Regions from separate parts of the Homo sapiens genome. Here region 2 is linked to region 1. The links come from fine-mapping of genetic effects on gene expression. A gene starts in region 1. The other region holds a variant in brackets. All regions are shown on one strand. Distances are from middle to middle. Region 1 holds the start of TTC9 (tetratricopeptide repeat domain 9). Region 2 overlaps MAP3K9 (mitogen-activated protein kinase kinase kinase 9).

Evidence for each region. PIP is the estimated chance that this variant, and not a neighbour inherited with it, causes the effect. A credible set is the group of variants that fine-mapping cannot tell apart.
Region 2: its variant is the best candidate, but not a certain one, in a credible set for the expression of TTC9 in whole blood (TOPMed, PIP 0.50).

What each region holds. Positions count from the first base shown.
Region 1 is chr14:70,640,422-70,643,322 of GRCh38, forward strand. It overlaps TTC9 (tetratricopeptide repeat domain 9), which reads left to right and starts at 1,495. Exons shown (of 3, transcript NM_015351.2): 1 at 1,495-2,114. The coding sequence starts at 1,709. It overlaps TTC9-DT (TTC9 divergent transcript), which reads right to left and starts at 877. Exons shown (of 3, transcript NR_110071.1): 1 at 587-877. RefSeq lists enhancers at 390-569, 670-929 and silencers at 1,400-1,549, 1,770-1,959, 1,980-2,049.
Region 2 is chr14:70,780,698-70,783,598 of GRCh38, forward strand. All of the region lies in intron 2 of MAP3K9 (mitogen-activated protein kinase kinase kinase 9), which reads right to left. Among named protein-coding and RNA genes, the nearest start is that of MAP3K9-DT, 27 kb to the right of the region's middle. RefSeq lists an enhancer at 1-81. The variant T/C (reference allele first, on the strand shown) is at 1,680.

The DNA.
Region 1 (2,901 bases):
ATTTTGAGTAGGAAGGTTTTAAAGCAGCATATCTGAACCAATATACTGGTTAACTGAGACCCACCCTCAGAGTTTCTGATTTCTTAAGTCTGGAGTAGGATCCTAGGATTTGCATTTCTAACTGTTTCCCAGGTGATGCTGACACTGCAGGTCTGGGGCCAGCACTCTGACAACCGGTGCTCTAGAATCTTTCTTTTTCTTAACATTAAGGAAGGGAGGGCACTAAAAAATATGTCAGGCTTCTCCATTGACTCCAAAATCAAATCCAAACTCTTCATCCAAAAGCCCCCATAATCCAACCCCGTCATTTCCCACTACTTCTCATTAGGCTATAAAATCAAACCACTATGCCCTAAACACACCTGAGATTTCAAACATCAGGACTTCCGCTGGATTTCCTCACTCCGGCTATGCCACTTCCTTCTACTTCTTCATGCCAAATCCTACCCAGCCTTCAAGGTCCTCAAATGCTATTTCCTCCATAAAGCCTCCTGATCTACCACTACTCAAAAAGCTACCTCTCCCTCCCCCCCTCAGGGCTGCACAGCACTTTTCGTTCCTCCCCAATGACAGGCACCATCTGTACCTGGTCCAGCGACTCTACCGGTGGGTGGTGTATCTTCGCCTGTAGACTGGGAGTTTCTTGAGGTCAGGGGAGTGACTTGCCTATCTTTGCCTCTTAGCCTTAGCAGATCCCCAGTAGACAGCTGACACTCAGAACCGACCAAAAGAAGGAAGGAATGGGACCTCCTGAGGAAGGGCACAGAACTGTCCTGTAAATGGAAACTAGACCGGACGCACGCCAAGCCGATGACCCACAGTAACAGGTGTTCTCCATCTCTGATGTCTGTGATTCATCCTGCACAGCTGCGCGCACACAGCACACGCATACACAGGCTCCCAGAATACGGCGCCCCACACGCTGTACCGCCCGTCGCGTTCTGGACGCCCCGGCGACCACACACACCGAGACACACCTCAGCGACAACCTGGATCCACAAAAAGGAGGCCCTGCCCCCTTAAAAAATACTAACACCTTACTGCAAAGAACTAGCAGCTACGGCTTGCGCCTGCGCCCCTTGTTCCCTGCCGCACCTTTTCTTGTAGTTAAGAAATCTATTTCTGCACGCATTTCGTCGCCGCCGCCCCCCATCCCTACACGCACGCACACACACACACACACACGCACACACACACACTCCCCTTCCCCTACACCTACCCCCCTCCCCCCACCTCCTTTCAGACTAGGCGCGCCTCGCAGAGCGGGATTGAATGGGAAAGAGCGGGGCCGTCTTTGTCATTAATCCTCCCCTCCTTCGGGCAAGCCAAGCTTCTTCCGGGTCAGCGACCATCCCCGCCACCCCACTCGGGGCCACGGTCCCCCCGCAGCGCTAGTCCCGGGCCCGCGAGCACCGGCCCCCGCCACCCGCAGGTTGCGGAGGGAGGAGGGCGGGAGCGGGCGGCGCGGAGCCGGGAGGCGGGGGAGGGGCCGGCGTCCGAGGCGGCGGCGGCGGCGGCTGGAGCAGCCTCTGGCAGCAGCGGGGAGAATGGGAGTGCGGGGCGCCAGACCGCCGCGGGGTGTCACGGCCGCCACGAAGCCTGCGAGGCGCGGGGCCGGCGCCCGCGGCTTTTAAACCCGGGAAGGCGCGGCGGCGGCGGCGGCGGCGGGCAGATCGCGGCGCGCACCAGGCGCCGGGGCGGCGGCCGAATGGAGAGAAAGGGCTCGGCGGCCGGGGCCAAGGGGAACCCGAGCCCGCCCGCGGCCGGAGAGGGGCAGCGGCCACCGCCGCCGCTGTGCGTCCCGGGCGGCGGCGGAGGAGCCCCAGCGAGGGGCCAGGTCGGGGCGGCGGCCGAGCCGGCCGAGCTCATCCGACGAGCGCACGAGTTCAAAAGCCAAGGGGCGCAGTGCTACAAGGACAAGAAATTCCGTGAAGCCATAGGCAAATACCACCGGGCGTTGCTGGAGCTGAAGGGGCTGCTGCCGCCCCCCGGGGAACGGGAGCGGGACTCGCGCCCGGCCTCCCCGGCTGGGGCCCTGAAGCCCGGCCGCCTCTCGGAGGAGCAGAGCAAGACGGTGGAAGCCATCGAGATCGACTGTTACAACAGCCTGGCAGGTGAGCCGCGCCGCGCCCCCCGCGCCGCGGTCCCCGTTCTTCGGCCCGGTCCCTCCGCGGACCACTGCGGCGCTCCCGCGGTGCAGATTCTCCTGCTGTGACTGTGTTGCTCTGGGGAGAACCCGGGAGGGAGGCGCTTTGGAAAAAGTGTGACTTTCAGGATTATGCCTTTCAAAGGCCATAATCATCTCTTGTCCCTTCGCTAGCATACATCGTAAATCTCACCTAGAAATGACTGGAAGGGGACCCAGCTGGCCTGGCTATGGCTGCTGCTGCTACTGCTCACCAGTGGACCTGGGTCCAAAATGCGGAAGCAGCGCCCGGGGTGGGCCCCCGCAGCCACCGCTAGCCCAGCTTTTTCCTGCGGGTGGGTCCCAAGGGAGGCCACGCACCTGTCTGCTCTCCTTAGGTAGCATGAGCACCAGGATTGGTCCTCGCCTTTTCCCCAACTAACCGCATCCCTGTAGGTAAGATCTTCCCCAAGTTTTTTGGCCCCAGTAGCAAAGGGGAGTTTGACACCATGCCTTCAGCATCTTGAGCAAAATGGATTCCAGAATGCCACTTTCTTCTCTCTGAGCTCTGCTGGGGCTCCCGGTTGCCAGGTGAAGATCTCTATCTCAAAAGAAGCTTGGTTCATGGTTGGGCTTGAACTATGCTGCATTCTCCCTCTCCTCCCTGCCCGTTTCTCACTATGTGTAGCATCAGTCCTCACGCCAGCTGGCTGCTAGGGGTGAAGGAAAAGGGGGCCCTACTCTTGGGCAAAGAAGGTGTACATTCCAACATTCCC
Region 2 (2,901 bases), 140 kb after region 1:
TGTGCAGCCACTTTCCTTACTAAAGAACATCTCCTTAAACACCTGCCTCCCCTGAATTTTCTCATCGTATCAGCTCAAACTGACTGAGAAGAGCTGCCAGATCTCCGTCATACCTCTGAAGTACCCAGCTACATACCAGATAAAAATAACCAAAAAAGAGGAAGCCTATCAGATGCTCGATGGTTTTGTCAACAGAAAGCAGTTCTTTCTTGGCAGGTGGCCATGGGGTGCAGCCGCCGCACAGGCTCTCCAGGGCCTTGTATCCCCAAGCTCTGCTAGCAGAGTTCCCTTAGCAGGCATGGAAGGTTGCATTTTCAAAGTGGTCCATCATCTCCCATCCTCTGTGCTTTTCCCCAGTGTGATCTTGACACTTTTCCCACTGAGAGGTGGGTCTGTGTCCTCTCCACTTGAAGCTGAGTGGTCTTGAGACTCACTTTAACAGAATGCAGAAGAAATGACAATGCCCGACTTCTAAGCTAGATCAGAAAAGATGCTACAGCTTCCCCATGTTCACTGGAACACTTGGGTCTGCAGCCTTGAGCCACTATGTAAGGCCAAGAGCCCTAAGAGAGCCATGCTCATGGACAGACTGCACATGGGCACTCCCATCAGCAGTCCTGGCCTCCAGCTTCTCCCAGCTCAGGCACTGAGCCATGTGTGTGAACAACCTTCAGATGGTTCCTGCCTCCATCTGCAGCCTCCCCTAGCCTTCAAGTCTTCCCAGGTGAGGCCCCAGACATTGACAAGCCATCCCTAATGAGCTCTTTCCAAATTCCTGACCCAAGTCTCCATGAGCTTAATAAAATGTTCTTGTTTGGGGTCGTTTGTTCTGAAGAAATAGTAATGGAAACAGTAGGTGATACACTGTGAGTCTAGTCTCATATCTGCTGCTGCTCTTGAATTTTTTAAAAAGGAAAAACTACCTTTTACTGAGCATTTACTTTGTGCCAGGCATTATGCTAAGGGTTTACACACATAACTTCATTTAATCCTCATTATAATGCCATGAGTAAATACTAGAATTATCCCCATTTTACAGAGGAGGAAATGGGCTCAGGGTCGAGGACTTTGCCCAAAGCCAGGTCTGCCTGATTCAGAGCCCACAACTGTACCAGCCCACAACTGTACCAGCCCAGGTTCTCTGGCCACTTAGAAAGAGGAGCTGTTTCACATGGAAGACTCAACTTCTTGGGAGCATGGCTTTCCTAGTCAACATTCCAGGTCTGGGAATTGCCTAAAGAACCCAGGTGATGGGACATGGCATCAGTGAACACTTGGCTCTGTCTGAGCTGGGGCAGGCCGCCTTCCCTGGGAGGTCATAGCTATGGCCTACCTGCCCTATTACCAACTCTTGAATCCTACCCCTTCTTTGAGGCCTAATTGTTCCATCAAGGCCTCCCAGGGAATTCTGCCTTCTCCAGACCCCATCTCATGTATCTTGACACGCTGCCCCCTACTACATCACACTGTTCTGGTTGTTTAGGATGTGTTTACATAGCACAACTCCTAAGGATGGAAAGAATGCAGTGGAAGTGACCTCTATGTTATGTATATAATAAATTGACCGTATTTCTTACAGCATGTATGCAATAGCAGGCACGTCAATTTCTTATGAGGACATTTGGGTAATAAAATTACCCACATCGGTTGAGAATCATGATCTATACAAAAAGAAAACA[T/C]TCCAGGCTCTGTGACCTGCACTTCACCCCAGGCATTGCAGAGGAGAAAGGATTTGAGGGCAGAGGAGGAAGCGGTACAAGCCACCACAGATACCACCTTCATCCCATCACCTTGCAGGCAAGGAAGTCCCAACCACAAAGGCTCGAAACACTGGGAGTTGCCATTGTGAACCACAAGTCCTTAATAGCCCTGGAAAGCTATGAAACACCAATTAAAGTTTCCTATGAATCACTTTTCAACCTCTCCATGTAAGAGCAGGGAGGAACCAACCTCAAGTACCTCCTCAGGCCAAGACTAGCTTTGCTCTGACTCACTGTCTTTCAGTCTATGATATGGATGCTTTTCTAATTCCTTCCTCCCACCTCCATGTCCATTGCATGGGGAAGATGAGACTTCCTAGCATCTTCCTAGTCTACCTCTGAATATTACTCTACAAATCCTGTTCCCCATGAGACAGAGTTGAGGATCTCACCATGGTAGGGAAAATTCAAAACTATACAAATTCTCTAGATGTTACACCTCAGTTTCCAGGTGAAAGCCAGTCCTTTCCTTCCTTCCCTGCTACCTGGAAGGTGGGCATAACAGGCATACCCAGAAACTGCTGGGAAAACGCTCAAATGCCGTGTTCTCTGCCTTCAGTGAATGCCCATGTAAGGAAAAGTCTTAGAATATCTTATTTTTCCTCAGTGGGGTCACTTTTACTCTTCCTGGAAGGTCATTATCCCAGTCTCTCCACCAATATACTACACATCAAATCAAGCATCAAAATGCTTGTAAGAAACCTAAAATTGGCCAGATTCATGGTCCATGCAACTAGAGTCAAGCATATAAAGCCACAGACTCACATGTTAGAAGCCCAGGACAGTACTGTGTCCAAACAACGGTAAGGTGGGAAGGAAGACGGCATCCTAAAGTAAATTCAAATTAGTCTGACTCTTATTTTTCTTGAGCATCCAAAGGTTTCATATGATCCACAGCAACGCTTCCTCAAATACCCCTTTTTAATTCCATCCACTGTCCTTATAGAAAGAAGCTCCCTCATTTCCTGCTCAAAATTCCTCCCAAAAGAGCTCCTGAAGGATTCACTCTTTGTCCCCTCCCCTTTCCTCCCATCACAAAGCTCTAAAGTTCCAGGAGCAGCAAAATCCAAATTCTCTTTGTGAGGTGGGCGAAGGAAATAGCCGGGAGGCTTCACTCATTGATAGTCCAGGTGTTATTCCA